2 linked regions of the Homo sapiens genome follow. The protein of the gene in region 2 binds, or shares a complex with, the protein of the main gene of each other region. Each region holds a gene or a part of one and is shown on either strand. Other genes may lie near its edges. A codon is read from its position in the direction of its gene.

What was found.
Region 1: the proteins of ITPKA (region 2) and CALM2 are in contact, whole or in part, in a crystal structure (PDB 4UPU), measured with the Homo sapiens proteins. Residues at the interface, in NP_002211.1 of Homo sapiens: Asn165, His166, Trp167, Gln168, Lys169, Ile170, Arg171, Thr172, Met173, Val174, Asn175, Leu176, Pro177, Val178, Ile179, Ser180, Pro181, Phe182, Lys183; in NP_001734.1 of Homo sapiens: Glu12, Phe13 (codon at 3,804), Glu15 (codon at 3,798), Ala16 (codon at 3,795), Leu19 (codon at 3,786), Phe20 (codon at 3,783), Ile28 (codon at 3,759), Leu33 (codon at 3,744), Val36 (codon at 3,735), Met37 (codon at 3,732), Leu40 (codon at 3,723), Gln42 (codon at 3,717), Met52 (codon at 3,687), Glu55 (codon at 3,678), Val56 (codon at 3,675), Phe69 (codon at 3,510), Met72 (codon at 3,501), Met73 (codon at 3,498), Lys76 (codon at 3,489), Met77 (codon at 3,486), Lys78 (codon at 3,483), Thr80 (codon at 3,477), Asp81 (codon at 3,474), Glu85 (codon at 3,462), Glu88 (codon at 3,453), Ala89 (codon at 3,450), Arg91 (codon at 3,444), Val92 (codon at 3,441), Phe93 (codon at 3,438), Leu106 (codon at 2,972).

Annotation. Positions count from the first base shown.
Region 1 is NC_000002.12:47,158,857-47,168,296, forward strand, and holds the end of CALM2 (calmodulin-2), read right to left. Parts: intron 3,807-9,440; coding exon 3,663-3,806; intron 3,537-3,662; coding exon 3,430-3,536; intron 3,003-3,429; coding exon 2,867-3,002; intron 1,949-2,866; coding exon 1,920-1,948; 3' UTR 1,228-1,919; downstream 1-1,227. UniProt on the Homo sapiens protein: Calmodulin acts as part of a calcium signal transduction pathway by mediating the control of a large number of enzymes, ion channels, aquaporins and other proteins through calcium-binding. Calcium-binding is required for the activation of calmodulin.
Region 2 is NC_000015.10:41,487,645-41,497,595, forward strand, and holds the start of ITPKA (inositol-trisphosphate 3-kinase A), read left to right. Parts: upstream 1-6,229; 5' UTR 6,230-6,283; coding exon 6,284-6,772; intron 6,773-9,951. UniProt on the Homo sapiens protein: Catalyzes the phosphorylation of 1D-myo-inositol 1,4,5-trisphosphate (InsP3) into 1D-myo-inositol 1,3,4,5-tetrakisphosphate and participates to the regulation of calcium homeostasis.

The sequences.
Region 1 (9,440 bases), on a different chromosome or scaffold from region 2:
GATGAGGTGAGGGGATCACTTGAGCCCAGGAGTTCAAGACCAACCTGGGCAACATGAGTCCCTGTCTTTACAAAAAACAAACCTTGTTTGGATTTCCTTTCGACAAAATTTACTACATCCAATTAAGGGGAGTAGAGTGCACATCTAAAATCTTCCTATTTAACTGATTACCCGAGTATGTGATACCATTAGAACTATCAATGCCTGTAACTTCCCTTGCTCTAAAACATACTAATAGTAGTATTAAGATAGTCAATGGGGCAGTAACCTGCCAAATAATGAATTACCCCTGGGAAATTAAAGACCTTGTAGCTATAATAACCAGGTAACAATTACACTCAATGTTTTAATCTTGGCTCTGGTTTGCTATGGAATCTTTCATTAAGCATTTAAAAGGTACTTTAAAAAAATAAAAACCCTGATAACCACCTTTGGAGTAGCTCAAATTATAGAGAAAGCAATGATAGAAGCCAGCAAAAACTAAAACAAGGTGTAGTCATTGCCAATTTACTCCTAAAGACATCTTTTTTTGCAAAATGTTGCAGATGGGCAAGCTGAAAATTCTCATCTTATAGAATTAAAAAGCACAATGAATAAAATATTAGTTAATAGAAGTAAAACTATAAGGATGCTCACCCCAACTAGATTTGGTTTTTTTTTGAACATGCAAACATTTAAAACATCACTGCACAGCTTAAGTCAACATGGACAAATGCCAAAGTTGAAAACTATAAAGGTAGGAAACAGTAAATACCTACTTTATGCCAATTCCCATACTAGGTACACTTAAGTTTTTGAGTCTTTCATTGGGGCCTTTTGAAGTTGTCAAATACAATCTGGATAAAGAAACAAAACAAAAAACTTGCCCCTCTTTTCCCATGACTGCCACCATCTTGTTCTGTGGGCAGAGGCAACTCACAGGTATCCTGGATCTAACACAGTAGCACAGTACGACACACATGGTGGTGGAGGAATGTTGTGGGCACGCATGATGGTGGCCCCCAAAAGGTGACTACACTAAGCCAGCCCCCATAGATCCCCATCTTTTCGGCCTTCCTCTTCAATCTCTCCTTAGTTACACCCCTTATTTTGTTCCTCTTATTTTCTGTGCTTCTCTCCCTCTTTTCTCACTTTTCCAATCCTTTTCTCCTTCCTTTCCCACCTTCACTATTTCTGCCACCCATCTCCATATGCTTCCCCACACGAGAAAAAATTATCTAGACTATACCAAGCAGAAACCAATGCCATATTTTATTTTCAAAATTATTAGACTTCAACAGTTAAATGACTCAGATGCAGAGCAACCATTGGGTAAATTGTAATTTTTTTATTGGAAAACAAATATACAACTTGGAATGGATTTTGAGGCAAATTGTGCCATAAGCAGATTTTAAGTGGCTAAACAAAGTTTAAAAAGCAAGTAACAATAAAAGAAAATGTTTCTGGTACAGGACCAGCAGTACAAAAAAATAGTGTACGAGTACCTGGATAATACACCCGTTTTGCAATAGTGCAACTTTTAAGTACATATTGTTGACTGTCCATAGTCCACGCAGAGTTACAACTCCACACTTCAACAACAACATGCTGACAGTTCCTAAAGAAAACTACTTTAAAAAAGGCATAACCCAGATGTTCCCTCATTTGACCAACTCCATCTAAGTTTAGATGTGCAGAAGGGCTTAGATATATCCAGAGTAAGCCACATGCAACATGTTACTTGATCAATTTTCTAAAATAAGGTTTTAGGACAATGACAGTAAGATAAGGGAAGAAAACATGGAGGAATGAAGTCCTAATTACTATACATGCATATTTTTTTGACAGTAGGGAGAAACCTTTTACAGATAAGTTACAAACAAAGAAAAGGCAAATAAACAATTTTGTACAAGAAATTTAACACATTCTGTACAAGGTCTTCACTTTGCTGTCATCATTTGTACAAACTCTGAAAAAGAAGAAGTACACAAAAAATGAGTCAATAGCAAAAGACCAAAAAAAAAAAAAAAAAAAAAAAATCACATTTACTCAATTACTGAGTACTCTTTCCATTCCTCTCTTTCCTCAGAATTACCATTAAGTACAGAGGGAAGCTAGTTTATTGCCCAGGCTGGAACTTCATTAACCATAACTATTCAGGTTTATTAGTAAGAGCCAAATTAACGCTTTAGATAGGCCAATATAAAAAAGAGCATTCTTGGCTCTTAGTTTAGACTTGAATTTTAAGTCTGCTGGATTACAAGACAATATTGTAAATTCAATGCTATGGGCTAGGTTTAATTTTTATAACATTACATTTTATGCTCTTTTCTAAGTTAAGTAGTTACATCATGAAAAAAATACAGAGTTTTACTCAAAATCCTTCAGTTTCATATGCCTTGCTTCCTGATATGGCCATCTTAAAAGTTAGTAGATACGATACTTTTGAAGCACATGTAAACTTCAGTTTCAGACTAAAGCCAATTAAAGAAAAAAGACAATACAGTGCGGGGAAAGAAAGTCACATTAATTTCATTTTAGGAAACTTGGAATAAGTTTGCTTTCCACATTGTTCCACAATCACACAAACACTGAACAGTGCTTCTCAAACTTTATACATGAATCACCCAAGAATCCTATTAAAATGCTGATTCCAGGTGTAGGGATAGAACCTGATAGTAAATATTTCTAAATTAAGTTCTCAAGTCAGAGCAATGTTACCTAGTCTGCAGACAACACTCTGAATTTTAAGAAGGTTAAATGTAAGTAACTGTTTTAGCAACCTAATTTCAGGGGAAGGGTCACTAATTTCGATCAGTTCCCTAACAAAGAGCCTCTTATCTTAAAAATCAAAGTGAAGAATGAGGCGTGAGACTGAAACATTTACCTTCATAGTTTACTTGACCATCACCATCAATATCTGCTTCCCTGATCATTTCATCAACTTCTTCATCTGTTAACTTCTCTCCAAGGTTTGTCATCACATGGCGAAGTTCTGCAGCACTAATATAGCCATTGCCATCCTAGCAAAAAATTTAGTATAGTTTCTGAGTCAAATTACAGACTTGAGAGTTGGAATGGAAATTTATTAAGTTTACTACTAAATTTCACATTGGGGGAAAAACATACTTTAGAAATGCATACAAATCTACACAGTTGACCTACAAATGTCATTAAGAGCCAAGCAAAATGTCCTACATTGAAATCATTATTTCCTAGTCCCAAAGTCAAGTGACACCTCCTTTGACAAGATGAACGCAATACATATATTAGAAAGTCTATACTGAATTCTTAAAAAGCTTTTGCTTGGTAATTAAAATATGTTGGTAAATCATCAAAAAAAAAAAAAAAAAAAAAAAAAAAAACAACCAAAAAAACACAAGTCTTCATAATGAGTCCTGGTATCTTCATTTCATCCTCAAAATTTAACATATCCAGTCCTTGACGTACCTTATCAAACACACGGAATGCTTCTCTAATTTCTTCTTCACTGTCTGTGTCTTTCATTTTTCTTGCCATCATTGTCAGAAATTCAGGGAAGTCAATTGTGCCATTACCTGAAATGGTTTAGTGGAAACATCAAAGCTTTAGTGGAAACATATAAGCAAACAGCAAAGGTTTAGTGGAAACATCTAAGTATCACTTCTTCAACCCCTCCCAGCCCCACAAAATTGAAGACTTACCATCAGCATCTACTTCATTAATCATGTCCTGTAACTCTGCTTCTGTGGGATTCTGCCCAAGAGATCTCATTACAGTTCCCAATTCCTTTGTTGTTATAGTTCCATCACCATCTTTGTCAAATAGTGAAAAAGCTTCTTTGAATTCTGTTTGAAAGAAAGACCACAATCCAAATACACAGATTAATAATAAAATGTAACCTAAATGAAACGTATTAACTCTTAAAGCCTACTCAGTGGTGGGATCGTGCCAGTGAACAGCCACTGCACTTCAGCCTGGCCAAACTGTAAGACCCCACGTCTCAGAAAAACCCAAAAACTTTTAACGGAAAAATACCAATGGAGGTAGCAATTGAAATGTGACTTTGACTCCTAAAGATTAACCAATCTTTATGATACCTTATGATAATATTTCAAATATATCTTTGACCAATCATACCACTGTACTTTCATGCTGACCTAAGTAAAATTATCCTAGGTTTACAGAGGAAAAGAACCAAATCCCCAAATGACTGGCTCCTCTGTCACTGAAGCTGCTCTGTGGAACATAATTCAAAATTACAGACCTAACCTACACTCACAAAACAAAAATAAGACTACTGGTACCCAAATACGTATTTCTACAGAGTAATTAAACTGTTTCTGTATACTGTGTTTAGAGTTAGCCACTATGTCTAAATCAATCACCTACTAAATTAAAACAGGCTACTTTCCCTTTCTAGTAAGGCAGGAGAAGGGACTATATAAAGAGTCTATAACAATGGGCTGATCAAGATATAAATGTCCAGTTTTAGCTAAATGCATGTCACTGAGAACAAAGATCATTTTGAGCTTTCTTTGGAATATTAAAACCCCAACCTTATATAGTGAAACTGATTATTCCTCAACATCTTGTTGTGATAGTATGTTCCTTCCTGCTGTTGTTTTTTTTTTTGAGATGGACTTTCGCTCTTGTTGTCCAGGCTGGAGTGCAATGGTGCAATCTCAGCCCACCGCAACCTCCTCCTCCCAGGATCAAGCAATTCTCCTGCCTCAGCCTCCCGAGTAGCTGGAATTACAGGCATGCACCACCACGCCCAGCTAATTTTCTATTTTTAGTAGAGATGGGGTTTCTCCACGTTGGTCAGGCTGGCCTCGAACTCCCAACCTCAGGTGATCCGCCTGTCTCTGCCTCCCAAAGTGCTGGGATTACAGGGCATGAGCCACTGTGCCCGGCTATATGTTCCTTCTAATACATCACTAGATTACATGGAAACCTCCTGCTGGTGCAACACTCCAGACTACCTGGCTTCATTCACCATTTACAGATAAACTAAAACAAGCCAGGTGCAGTGGCTCACACCTGTAATCCTAGCACTTTGGGAGGCCAAGGTGGGCAGACTGCCTGAGCTCAGGGTGAGTTCCAGACCAGCCTGAACAACAGGGTGAAACCCCGTCTCAGGCCGGGCGCGGTGGCTCAAGCCTGTAATCCCAGCACTTTGGGAGGCTGAGGCGGGTGGATCATGAGGTCAGGAGATCGAGACCATCCTGGCTAACACGGTGAAACCCCATCTCTACTAAAAATACAAAAAAATTAGCCGGGCGTGGTGGCGGGCGCCTATAGTCCCAGCTACTCGGGAGGCTGAGGCAGGAGAATGGCGTGAACCTGGGAGGCAGAGCTTGCAGTGAGCTGATATTGCGCCACTGCACTCCAGCCTGGGCGACAGAGCGAGACTCCGTCTCAAAAAAAAAAAAAAAGAAGAAAAAGAAAAGAAACCCCGTCTCTACTAAAACACACACACACACAAGCTGGGTGTGGCGGCGTGTGCCTGTAGTCCCCCGTCTCTACTAAAACACACACACACACACACACACACACACACACACACACACGCTGGGTGTGGCAGCGTGGGCCTGTAGTCCCCCGTCTCTATTAAAACACAAACACACACACAAGCTGGGTGTGGCGGCGTGCGCCTGTAGTCCCAGCTACTGGGGAGGCTGCAGCAGCAGAACTGCTTGAACCCGAGAGGCGGAGGTTGCAGTGAGCCGAGATCACACCACTGCACTCCAGCTTGGGCAACAGAGTGAGACTTGTCTCAAAAAAAAAAAAAGAAAGAAAGAAACTAAAACAGACTAACTTTGATACTGCAAAGTTATACCAATCAGTAAATAATAAAGCTAGTATTTTCCAAGTAAGTCATTTCCCAGAAAATATTAGACCCTATCAGCAAATGAATACAAAAAGTTTCCAAGTTCATTGGGCCATTAAGCTTTCCCAACATAGCCATACATTTGAAAATTTATGTGACACATGTGTAAGAAATGGTGTACCTTCTTTACGGTCCAAGGCCAATTTATTCCCTGCCTGCTTATCCCTAACTCCAATTCGCGTACACCTTCCAGTTTCATTCCGTATTACCTCTTCCCTGGACTCAACTATTCTTCCACTAATTTGCCCATTACCACATAAATATCTTCACATCGCTTAGCCTAAAACTAAATTGAAACCTTAGTTATATTTTAAATGCTTGCCCTTATCCCTCCCCAAATTTTGGAAGGCACTACTACTCATACCAATTTCCTCTCTCCAAACAATCCACTATTTTAAAATGACATCCAGCTCCAACTCATCACCTGAAAATGCTGAGTTTACCAATGACTACTAGTCAGTCACCCAATCCATCAAGCATGCTTCAATGTGAAGCCATATGGCATAGAAACTAAAATGAGACTTTGTAACTTGACTACTGGGTTAGAATTTCCTAGCTCTGTTTCTTCTTCTGGCAATGCAATATGGACAAGCTACTAAACCTTTTCTGCCTCAGCTTCCTCATTTCTGTGAAATGACATAAATGTGCCCAGTAAGTGGGGTGACACAGTATACCATGCCCACAAGGGGTATTCACCTGGTCACCCCCCATAAAAAAATTAGTATGTGTCAAACACTTAGAACTATGTCCAACAAATACATACTTAATAAATGTCAAGATAAAGACTATCTCATTTTTTTGCAGCATCCAAAACTGCATGGAAAAACTCTCAAAATTTTTCTTGGCCTTCGTAACAGTACTTTGATTTTCCTCCTACCATATACTGCCAAAGGCTCTTACTCCTGTCTCTTATGTCTAGATGTGACCAATTTTATCCTTTTTTTCCACTCCTTGGCCACTTCATCTATACCCACTTACAACGAAGATATCTTTAGTCTACCCATCTCGCTCAATAAATGTCTTTATTTCTGGCTGTCTACAGGATATAGCTCCCCTGGCTGATGACAAGCAAAACATATGAAAATGAATTCTATACTCCCAGGCAACCCTAAAGGTACTAGCAAAAGCCCAAGAGCCACTTTTAACTCTTTCAGTCTGAAATCTGTCAACAGGTCTCGAATTCTATCATTTAAATACTGCCTGATTTTTCCTCCATCTCTACAACCAGTATTTTGGTTCAAGGCTCCATCGTCCTTTGCCAGGGCTATTACAATTGCCTCCTAACTGCATTCTTTCTTATTTAAATATTACTGGTTTATAGAGGAACTCATCTAATACCAATCAGAAGGTTCATACCACACTAATTGATTTTATGAAGATAGTATACAGTGCTAACCTAGATCAACCTAATGACAAAAATAGATCAGGGAGTCTCCACCTACAAATAGCACAATTGATAAAGACATTTCAATTTTACTGTTTTTAAACAGAATGTAGAAATATCTAGAAATACATATATTGGAGTTCAGACACATTGCACCTTTCACCTAATTTAGGTTACAAGAAAATTAAAGGACTTTGAGGTATTTGTTTATATTACATTCTCTGCTATGGGTATCTTTTAACACCACCATTAGGTGCATAAATTCCCAATGTTTAATTAGCAGTAATCACCTTTCTATTACATGATTTAACAAAAAGCTAAATACTGGAAGATGCATAGTGTAAGACTATGTATAACTTTCGAGAAATTTAAAAATCTAATAACACTTAAAATGTTTGCTAGAATAAGTAAAATGCAGAAAATAAAACCGTATCTATGCTAATACCATTTGTTATTCATTCAAGAAAGGAACAAATAACATTTCTTTTAAAGGTCAAGGTTTATTCCAAATTTTTACTTGTATTTTTATACTAAAGAGTAAAAAATACCTGTAAAAACTCAAAATAATAAACCCCAAAGTAAAATTTTAATTCACCTGCCTTTACAGTTTTCCTGTACTTCAGAACTAGCGTAATCTTTATGTATAGAAGCATATAATTCTAAACTGTAACTCCCAGGAATGACCTGAAATTAAATCCAAGAGTCAAAACCTAAACACACAATAAAGAGAACAGGTCCTGAATGCCACAGAACAGCTATCTTCTACATAATTGATAGATATAAGGAACCTACCAAAATCCATTTTAGCTGACCAAACTGAAACTTTCAGAAAAATCTATTACTCAAGTTTTATTTGTTCATTAGCAACCCCAAGGCCCTTCCCTAATTAGTTTATTACCTAAACATATAATTTTATTAAAATAACATGTTTTAAAAATTTTATTAAAATAGGTTATCACAAGACAATTACAAAACAAATCAAATGACTGTTTATTAACTTCTATTTCTTCACAAAATTCTGAACTTAATAATCCCTTAAAGATCATGTACTGGAACTCTTTTGGCGCTTCATGCAGTTGTTGCTATACATTGAGTAATATTAATATTTTTCTCAAACAAATTTGGACCTTGAAAATTTAATGAAAGTTTAGGTACAGACTTCTTAAGGAAAAAATACTGTACATTTTTCCTATCAGTCTTCCAAAAGTCAAACAGCAACAACTAATGACATCATGGCAGAGTTATCAACAAAATGAAATTGTTAGTGATGTCATACTAGACTGGAATGCTTTATACGACCAAGTAATATAAAAAATTTTAGGCCGGGAGCAGTGGCTCATGCCTGTAATCCCAACACTTTGGGAGGTCAAGGTAAGCGGATCACCTGACGTCAGCAGTTCAAGACCAGCCTGGCCAACATGGTGAAACCCCATCTCTCCTAAAAATACAAAAACTAGCCGGGTGTGGTGGTGCACGCCTGTAATCCCAGCTACTTGGGAGACTGAGCCAGGAGAATTGCTTGAAGTTGGACAGCAAAGGTTGCAGTGAGCCAAGATCATGCTACTGCACTCCAGCCTGGGCAAGAGAGTGAAGCTCCGTCTCAAAAAAAAAAAAAAAAAAAAAAAAAAAAAAAAAAATTTAGTAACTTCATCTACACAAGGATGTTAGCGGTCACCAGCACTTACAACTAAAAAAAAAAAAAAAAAAATTTTTTTTTCTTTTCTTTGAGACAGGGTCTTGCTGTGTTGCCCAGACTGGTCTTGAACTCCTGGGCTCAAGCAATCCCACTGCCTCAGCCTCCCAAAGTGTTGGGATTAGACATGCGCCACCATGCCCAGCCACCAACAATTACAATTTACCAGATTAAAAAATTGCCTTCATCTCAAAGGTAAACACTGAAATATACCAAATTTGGGAGGAAGGGACTTGGAGAGTAGGCAGAAATCTTAGGATAGTAGTGCTCTAGAACTTTTTTGTGTTACACACTCATTGAGAATAAAATTTATTCAAGGAATATTCAATGATTACTATGTGGCAGGTACCGGGCCTACAAAGTAGAACAAAAAGGTCCCTGACCGCACATGATTTTTATTTTAGTAGCATAGAAGTTTTGGTTCCTCTGCCCTAAATCTTAACTGAAACCTGGAGGTCCAAGGAATGGCTTTAAAGAAATCTGTGGTCTAGGAAAAGGCAGGATAAGAAGAG
Region 2 (9,951 bases):
TGTGAATGCATGAGTGAATCACAGGTATTGTCACAGAATAGTGGGGTCTTAGGGTCATAAAGTCCCTTGGAAGGGCACCAAGTCCCACAGTGCATGTCTGGGAGTTGTTACTAGAATAAGACCTTGCACCACCGGGTCCAGTGGAACATGACAGCCCAACCCCCTCTCACCTCCCCACTCCTACCACACACACACACCCCACACACACTACACACACCACACTCACACACCACACCCACCACACACACACTACACACACTCACACACCACACACACCACACTCACACCCACACCTACCACACACCACACCCACCACACATGCCACACTCACACCACACCCACACCACATACCACACACCACACACACACCACATGCAACACACAACACACACATACCACACGTGCGCCACACATACATGCCATATACACCACAAACATAACCCCCCACACACACCACACATGCCACAATGACACATACCACACACACACTAGAGAGGCTCTGCTCCTGCTGGAGAAGACTTGAAGTCTCCTCAAAGGAACAGATGCTCCATTCAGGAGCACAGGTCAAAGGCTGTGCCTTCCCTTCTCTCCCCAAGGTGAAAGGCCCTGCTTGTCATCTTAGGAAGCAGAAACCAGCACTGTGCCTGGCAGAGGGTGATGAGTGGTGATTTTGCTCCTGCCACTGGTGCTGCCCTGGGGATGGGGTAGAGGTGGGCACAGCTATGAGGCAGGCTGGGGTGAGGACCCCAGAAACCCCTCACATCACACATCCCATTTTCCAGGCCCTTTTTTCTTCCCTAGTTTTGTACCTGAGGGTGATGTTTCTCTAGAAGAGATGCAGCCCTCAGTCATGATAAATCCTGAAATTTTTTTTTTTTTTTTTTTTTTTTGAGACGGGGTCTCTCAATCTGTTGCCCAGGCTGGAGGGCAATGGCTTCATCACGGCTGACTGCAGCCTCAACCTCCCTGGGCTCAGGTGATCCTCCCACCTCTTCCTCCTGAATACCTTGGACCACAGGCATGTGTCACCATGCTTGGCTAATTTTCTTATTTTTTGTAGAGATGGGTTTTCAGCATGTTGCTCAGGCTGGCCTCAAATTCCTAGGTTCAAGTGATCCTCTTGCCTGGGCCACCCAAAGTGCTAGGATTACAGGTACCAGTCACTGGGCCCACCCCTGAAGGTCTTTGATGGGGGTGAAGACTCAGGCACTTCAAGAAGCAGACCTCAGGCCAGGCGCAGTGGCTCATGCCTATAATCCCAGCATTTAGGGAGGCCAAGGTGGGCAGATCACCTGAGGTCAGGAGTTCAAGACCAGCCTGGACAACATGGAGAAATCTCATCTCTATTAAAAATATAAAAATCAGCTGGGCATGGTGGCAGGTGCCTGTAATCCCAGCTACTCAAAAGCTGACACAGGAAATTTCCTGAACCCAGGAAGCAGAGGTTGCAGTGAGCTGAGATCACACCAATGCACTACAGCCTTGGCAACAGAGCGAGACTCTGCCTCAAAAAAAAAAAAGCAGACCTGTAGGGAACAGGAGGATCAACCAACTGAGATACCACAAGAAGATAGGTTCTGGCTGGGCACAGTGGCTCACACCTATAATTCTAGCACTTTGGTAGGCCAAAGCAGGAGGATTGCTTGAGCCCAGGAATTCAAGACCAGCCGGGACAACAGAGTGAGATCCCTGTCTCTACAAAAAATTTAAAAATTGGCTGGGCATGGTGACACATGCCTCTGCCTGTGGTCCCGGCTACTCGAGAGGCTAAGGCAGGAGGATCACTTAGGCCCAGGAAGTTGAGACCGAAGTGAGCTGTGATTGTGACTCTGCACTCCAGCCTGGGTGACCGAGTGAGACCCTGTCTCAAAAATAAATAAATAAATAAAGGAAAAGAAAAAAGGTTATCTGCTCAGACATGTAAGCTGGCCTTGTGGCCAAGGCAGAGAGACTCTCATGGCCTATCTCAGAACAGCCACCTAATGACCATCAAAACCTTGACACACTGGCGGGGTGCAATGGCTCATGCCTGTAATCCCAGCATTTTGGGAAGCTGAAGGAAGAAGACTGTTTGAGGCTAGAGTTCAAGACTTGGCCAACATAGGGAGACTCCATCTCTACAAAAAGTTTTTAAAATTAGTTGAGCATGGTAGTGTGTGCCTGTGGTCCCACCTACTCAGGAGGCTGGGGCAGGAGGATCCCTTGAGCCCAGGAGGTGGAGGCTGCAGTGAGCCATGATGGCACACTCTAGCCTGGGTGACAGAGTGAGTGAGACTTTGTCTAAAAAAAAAAAAAAAAACCCAAAAACAAACAAAAAACAACCTTGACACATTCCTCTACACCCCAGTGTCCCCCTTTTCTGTTGTTTAATTTTTTAAAAACTGTCTCTGGCGGTCAGGCGCAGTGGCTCACACCTGTAATCCGAGCACCTTGGGAGGCTGAGGCAGGCAGATCACCTGAGGTCAGGAGTTCGAGACCAGCCTGGCCCATTAATGTAGTGAAGCCCTGTCTCTACTAAAAATACAAAAAATTAGCCAGGCGTGGTGGCACACACCTGTAATCCCAGCTACATGGGAGGCTGAGGCAGGAAAATCGCTTGTGCCAGCAGGTGGAGGTTGCAGTGAGCTGAGGTGGTGCCACTGCACTTCATCCTGGGTGACAGAGCAAGACTCTCAAAAAAAAAAAAAAAAATTTTATCTGGCCTGCTTAATGCTTAAGTGTTTGAACATCCCCACCATTTTTTTTTTTTGTGGCACTCAAGAGGCCATCCCTTCCACCTCCATACTAGTCAGTCTGATTTTTTCCACATCCCTTCTACTCAAGCATCAAAGACTGAGAAAAATGAGTCATAAAAGAACAGATGTTCTAGGGTTTCAACGTTTATTCCTGGCATGACTAAGAGGACGGAAGAGCCTGCTGACCTCATCCTACAGCTATACAGGGACTCCCAGGCCTTGCCCCAAGACGTACCCTTATGTTTTCTGACTGTAGTAGGTGGGGGCAGACTCTACCTTCAGAAGGAACTACAAGATGTTTCTTTGTTTTGAGATGGAGTCTGGCACTGTCGCCTAGGCTCACTGCAACCTCTGCCTCCTGGGTTCAAGTGATTCTCCTGCCTCGGCTACCCAAGTATCTGGCATTACAGGTGCCCTCCACCATGCCCAGCTAATCTTTGTATTTTAGTAGAGACGGGATTTCACCACGTTGGCCAGGCTGGTCTCGAACTCCTGTCCTCAGGTGATCCACCCACCTCAGCCTCCCAAAGTGCTGGGATTACAGGTGTGAGCCATTGCACCCGGCCAGGAAATACAAGATGTTAATGAAAGAATTTGAGAACATGAGCGAGGTGGCTCATGGCCATAATCCCAGCGCTTTGGGAGGCCTGGGTGGGCGGATCACCTGAGGTCAGGAGTTTGAGACCAGCCTGGCCAACATGGTGAAACCCCGTCTCTACTAAAAATACAAAAACTAGCCAGGCCTGGTGGCGAGCACCTGTAATCTCAGCTACTCAGGAGGCTGAGGCTAGAGAAGCAGGCTGAGGCTCTTGAAGCCAGGAAGCAGAGGTTGCAGTGAGCCGAGATCACGCCATTGCACTCGAGCCTGGGCGACAAGCACGCAGGAAGTCAGGGGACCTAGCCAGGATACACTGCCTTTTCCATCAACTGGCTGTGTGTCCTTAACCTCCCTGGTGGAGCCACTTAACCTCTTTGGTACTTCCGTAATGTGAATGAGGAGGATAGATGGATATAAGGCCCCTTACTGCTCTAAGAATCTATGGGATTGGATTTCAGTTCAGCATCCATTTCCAGGTTTGCGCTCATCTTTCCAATGAGAGACACCTGGGCAGGTAGAGCAAAGAGCAATTCTCTGGCTGCTGGTATAGTAGACCTAAGGCTTGAGCAAGTGCCTGATACAAGAAGAAAAGGAATTGCCCCTTTTTCTTGGCAGCCAGGACAGAGACCCAGTGCCCAACCTGCTTATACCTCCAACCCTGCCCATCCATCGCCTGACAGACAGGAGTGCAGGACAAGTTCTCGCCCCTCATTGCCCTCCCTACCTTTCCAGTTCTGGCAGTTCCTTGCAGGCTCTCCCCACCTTGGGTTTCCTCCCAGCCCCGTCTCTGAGGGCAGCACCTTCCCACATCCTGACGCAGGTCAGTGTAGCTGTGAAGGAGGCAGAGGAGTGAGTGTCTGAGACACGAGTGATCCAGGTCCTTCAAGCTGCAGAGTACATCCCTCACACACATACTCAAGATTCCTCCAGATGGTTGTCCTAGAGAAGGTGGCGATGTGATTTCCCAGGTTCTCCGTGAAGTAGTCAAGTATTCAAACTCCTCTATGCCCTTCTTCCTCTTACCCCTTCATTCCCTCTATTTCTCCTGCCTCTCTCATTGCCATTCTTTCTTACATTATTTTGCTTCCTTCCTCAGTTCTCCAGGATCTTCACCTATTTGTTTATTTTGAGATAGCGTATGACTTGTCACCCAGACTGCAGTGCAGTGGAATGTCATGGCTCTCTGCAGCCTCGACCTCCTGGGCTCAAATAATCCTCTCACCTCAGCCTCCTAAGTAGCTGGGACCACAGGTGCATGCCACCACACTCAGCTTTTTTTTTTTTTTTTTTTTTTTTTTTTGAGACAAGTTATCACTCTGTTGCCCAGGCTAGAGTGTGGAGTGTGGTGGTGGAGTGTGGTGGTGATCTCAGCTCACTGCAGCCTCGACCTCCCAGGCTCAAGTGATCCTTCCACTTCAGCCTCTCCCCGAGTAGCTGAGACTACAAGTGCACACCACCACACCTGCCTAATATTCTGTATTTTTAGTAGAGACAGGGTTTTGCCATGTTGCCCAGGCTGGTCTCGAACTCCTGGGATCAAGCAATCTGCCCGCCTTGCCCTCCCAAAGTGCTGGGGTTACAAGCCTGAGCCACTATGCTTTGCCGAAGATTCCCGTCTTCCCACTGAACCTTCTTCTTTCCTTCTCCTGGGCCATTCCTGAGCCCTGGCTGAGGGGAGAGAAGGGAAGGAAAGCCCCTCCTGCGGCCATCTCAGCATCCAAGGCAATCCTTCTGGGGCTGCTCTGTCTCCAGGGCCCCAGCCATCCCCAGACACTGAGTGCCTGAGGGGGGACCCTCACTCCTGTGGCACTATGGTAAGATAGGAAACAGTGGCTTCTCCTCAAAGCAGCCTCGCCGGTCGGTCAGCTGACTACCAACATGGGAAGTGGCCGAAGATCCACATGGAATGACACTGATAAGCACTTTGCAGTGTCTGAAACTCTTAAACATCAGTGCTGTCTTCCTAGTTTTACAGACACAACTCTGTGGGTTGGATGAGGTTTTTCTAAATGTACAAATGCAGAAATATACGGAGGGAGTAAAGGGACTGCCTACAAATCACATCTAGAGTGTGGTGTACCTGATTTCAAGTCTTTTATTTTATTCTCGCAGCAACGGGAGAATCCGCAGTCGAGGGAGGTGAAATGACTTGCTGAACGCCACACGGCGGACTCCAAGCCCCGAGCTCCTATAACAGAGGAGGAGGAAGGCGGGCTCAGCTCCTGCCACCCAGCAGCGGGGGAGATGCAGCCCGGGACTAGGCTGGGCCATGGGGACAGATCCAGGCCCCGCCCCCTGACCTTGTTCTCTGCCCGCCGGGAAGTGGGGAACTTGCGGGGAGCAGCCTCAGCTAGTCCCTGGGGCAGAGTCTCCACTTGGGTGCACGCCCTGGGGTGGGGCTTCTTCGGGAAGCCGGGGGCCTTCAACTCTGCTCAGGAGCTCGGGCCGGAGAAAGGCCCCGAGACTTGAAGCCCTTGCCCGGGAGGGATGAACACGCAAAGGAACCCGAGGAACGGGGTAGGGGACCAAGAGTAGGACCAGCTTCTCCTGCGCGGGGACAGGGCCTGTGGAGCGGCCTGGAGGAATCTCTCCCAGCCGCGAAGCCCGGGAAGGCTGCGAGGCCCCAGCGCGGAGCGGCCCCTCCCACCTCCCCGAGGGCAGGCGGAGCGAAGCCTCGGGGCCCGGGCCCAGGTTTTGTGCCTACGGAGGCTGGACTTCCCCGCCACCCCGAGGAGTCACCGAGAGCCTTCTCTCCCTCGCAGGGGCCCTGGGAGGCCCGCGCTTTCTCTGAAAGTGGAAGGAGTGGGCGGGGGGCGCGGCCGAGGCGGGGCGCGGGCGTGCAGCGGCGCAGGCTCCGCCCCGGGGCCGTCTCCAGCCGGGGGCGCCGAGCCGCTCCAGTCCCCGGCGCGCCGCGGGCTGGTGGGCTCAGCGGCGGCGCCGGCACTGGGAAATGACCCTGCCCGGGGGCCCAACGGGCATGGCGCGGCCGGGGGGCGCGAGGCCCTGCAGCCCGGGGCTGGAGCGGGCCCCGCGCCGGAGTGTCGGGGAGCTGCGCCTGCTCTTCGAGGCGCGCTGTGCGGCGGTCGCTGCGGCCGCCGCCGCGGGGGAGCCCCGGGCCCGCGGGGCCAAGCGGCGTGGGGGACAGGTCCCCAACGGGCTTCCGCGGGCTCCCCCGGCCCCGGTGATCCCTCAGCTGACCGTGACAGCCGAGGAGCCCGACGTGCCCCCGACCAGCCCTGGGCCGCCGGAGCGGGAGAGGGACTGCCTCCCGGCAGCGGGCTCTTCGCACCTGCAGCAGCCGCGCCGCCTTTCCACCTCGTCGGTCTCCTCCACTGGCTCCTCGTCGCTGCTCGAGGACTCGGAGGACGACCTGCTGAGCGACAGTGAGAGCCGGAGCCGCGGCAACGTGCAGCTGGAAGCGGGCGAGGACGTGGGTCAGGTACGGGCCGCGGGGGCGGGGCCAGCGCCGGGCGCGGGGGCTGCACGGGGGACCTGGCTGGGTGCTCCCGGAGGACCCGCTCCTGTCCATGCTCCCTCCAGCGGAAGGTCCTGTTCTCGCGGTTTAGGAGGAATCTGGGGGTCAGAGGGAGGCGCCTGGCCGACCTCTCGCCTGGGCAACTTTCACCTCGGCTCCGCCGGCGGGTCGTGGCGCTGGCCCTGGGGCGTCTAAGAAGCGGGGCGAGGAGCAGGCGACCCGCCGCGGGGACTGGGCGAAGCGGGGGTAGCGGACCTTGTTGGCTGTGGGTTAGGACAGGAGGGATCGGAGGGGCTGAGCCTTGCCGGGTGAACCCTCGGAAGGAGAGAGGCGAAGGAGAGTTTCCCTTACCCCCCGCCCCCTCTCCGGTGCCGCGGCCGCACCCCCGCCGTTGCCACGGTTTCCCTCTCCTGAGTGGGAGTGGAGCGGCGCTCCAGGCTCTGCTCGGGAGCCGCTGCCGTCTGCTCCCAGCGCCCGCACGAGGCGTGGACGCAGGGGAGGGAGGGGCGTGGGCCTGGGAGCTCTGGCTGGGAGCGGAACGCAGCCCACCCAGTGCGCGCCCTGCCTCCCATCTTCCCGGCTCGCCGCTCCTGAGCGCGGCAGAGAGGGGCGGTAAACTGAGGCTGCAAGGGGGCAGGATCACTCTGCTAGTCTCTGCCTCTGATAGCCTGGGTGTTCTGGGACCAGGTCTGACCCTCGGAAAACACAGCCCTGGGCACTGTTAAGTCATTCCTGACGCCCGCCACTTAGGGATGTGCGGCTCCCGGGACACCCTCCTTGTTCCCCTCGTTTTAACCAAGGCCAAATACCTTGAATAACTGTCCGTGGTCAGCGCGAAGGACTTTCTTTAGATCCACGTTTCGCAAGTGTCCCTGAGGCCGAGGAAGAGGCGAGGGGCGCCCCCGGCCTCGGGCGTCTGGGGCCTGCCCATAAGTCCGGGTCGGCGCGGCGGGGCGGGGAGAGCTGTGGCCGCGCGCCTGCTCCGCCGCACAATCGGCTGGGACAAGGCAGGGAAGCTGTGGCGACCTGCAGGGGTTCACAAGCCCGGAGGCCGATGGGGTTTGTCAGTGACACCAGAGGGGAAAAGCCTCACAGAGCAGGAACACCCCCCGCCGCCAGGTGCTGGGTGCGCCGGCTCGGTCACTAGCCTGCCGCTTCCCCTTCTTCCCCGGTGGTCAGAGCAGCCCCGGACCCAGGATCGTTTCTGGGGTAACCCTTGCCTAGGTCGGGGGGCGGATGCCGGGGCTTCCCAGGATGTGGAGTGTGGGGCAGTGAGAGGCCCCCCGCCCCGCCTCTTCGGAAAAGCCTGAGCAGCAGCTCCCGGGGCGCGGAAGCTCTGACACCTGAGAGCCGGTGCAGGCGAAAGGGCGCGAAGCGCGGGCGCGTCCCGCTTCCCTCTTCCGCCCGCAGGGACTCGGCGAAGTGCCTGGGAGAGGGAGTGCGCTAGGAGGAGGTCCTGCGGCCCAAGCCTGGGTGTAGAGACCGCCCCGGCTAAGGTCAAGCCTCGGGGACCTGGGCGACCCCGCCGCCCTCCGAGCCGTCGGGAGCCGGTGCAAATCGCCGCTGAGGGCCCTTCCAGCTCCAAGGCTGCGGCTTCCAGGCCTTCCCCACCCCCAGGCCCGCCGGGGCCTCCCCGAAGTCAAACAGCCACAGCGGCGGCAGATAAGCCAGGGGCTGTTGACAGAGGCTGCCTGAGTCCGTGTGGAAGGGCCCAGGGCGGACTTTGCCTCGCCGCAGGTCCCAGAGCCGCACAGCGCGCCGGCCCAGGCCAATTTAGGGCTTCCCCAGGCAGGAAGCAAGGCTGGTCCGGCTGACCGTGAAGGATGCACGTGGGCCGGACTCTAGGACTCCCGGCTTACCAGCCCCTTACGCGCGGCCCAGGCAGGCCGGAGCCCAGGAAGTTTCTGCCTGCCTGCCTGCCTACCTCTCTGCCTGGGGCATACGTAGTCCCCTTCACCTCCTAGGAGCCCTCTCCAGCCTGCCCAGAGCAGGGAAATTGAAACTGGGCAGCCTCACTCCGGCAGAGGAAAAAGTCACAGGCAGGCTTTTCCTAACCAGCCAGGGGAGAAGTTGGAGGCCCACCCGCAAGGTCAGCTGCATGACTCTATGGCCTTGCCTGCCTCCTCAAACAATTGTGGGGTATTGCTGGAGGAAAAGAGAGGGTGTTTGGCTCCTGTTCATCTGGTTTTCTTCTTTCTGTGCTCCAGGATAGGTAAGGAGACCTGGATGCCATCCCCTCCTGGACTCAGAATTCCCACACATCGCTTTCCACTAATTATAGAGCAGAATTTAGGTTAACAGACTTCCTTTTTAAACAGCTAATGCCCATGGGAAGGTGAAGTCGTGGGTCACTTATACCTTAGTGCAAATCGTTTTATAAATTTAAACTGATTGCTCTTCCCACCACCACGACCACAGGGAGTGCTAGTTTGATAGGGCAATTGGAACATGGGGAGGGTATTGGGCTGGTAGAGAGCTTCAACCAGAGCCTGGATGACTGGAGGCAGGGAGCAAGGGTGAGTGCCAAAGACAGAGCACTCACCCACCTGCTGGTCTGCTCCAGCAGAAGATACACTGTGTATCTGGCATGAGCAGGTGTCTTCAAGGCTTCCGAATGGAGCTTAGACAAAGGAGGGTCTGAGGCTAGTATCCAGCCAAGCCCTGCCCAGAGAGAGGTACTCCCTGTTCAGCCCTAGGAGTGAGGAATTATCAGAGGGCCCTCCTGTGACTTCATTAAAGTCTCTCACACAGTCAGCAATCCTAGCCTTTGCCTCAAGATACCCAGGTAGCCTCTGGCTGTGTGTTAGTCTCCCAGAGAGGGCACCTTCATGGAGGGAGGCCCGAGCCAGAGGATGTTCAAGCTTCTCCCGGGTTCAAGCGATTCTCCTGCCTCAGCCTCCCGAGTAGCTGGGATTACAGGCACCTACCACCACACCGGCTAAGTTTTGTATTTTTAATAGAGATGGGGTTTCACCATGTTGGCCAGGCTGCTCTCGAACTCCTGACCTCAAGTGATGCATCTGCCTTGGCCTCCCAAAGTGCTGAGATTACAGGTGTCAGCCACCGCGCCTGGGCTTACATTCATTTTTAAAAGCGTGATGTTCTCTGGGGGAGGTATCTCCCTAAGGTGGAAGGTGGCAGTG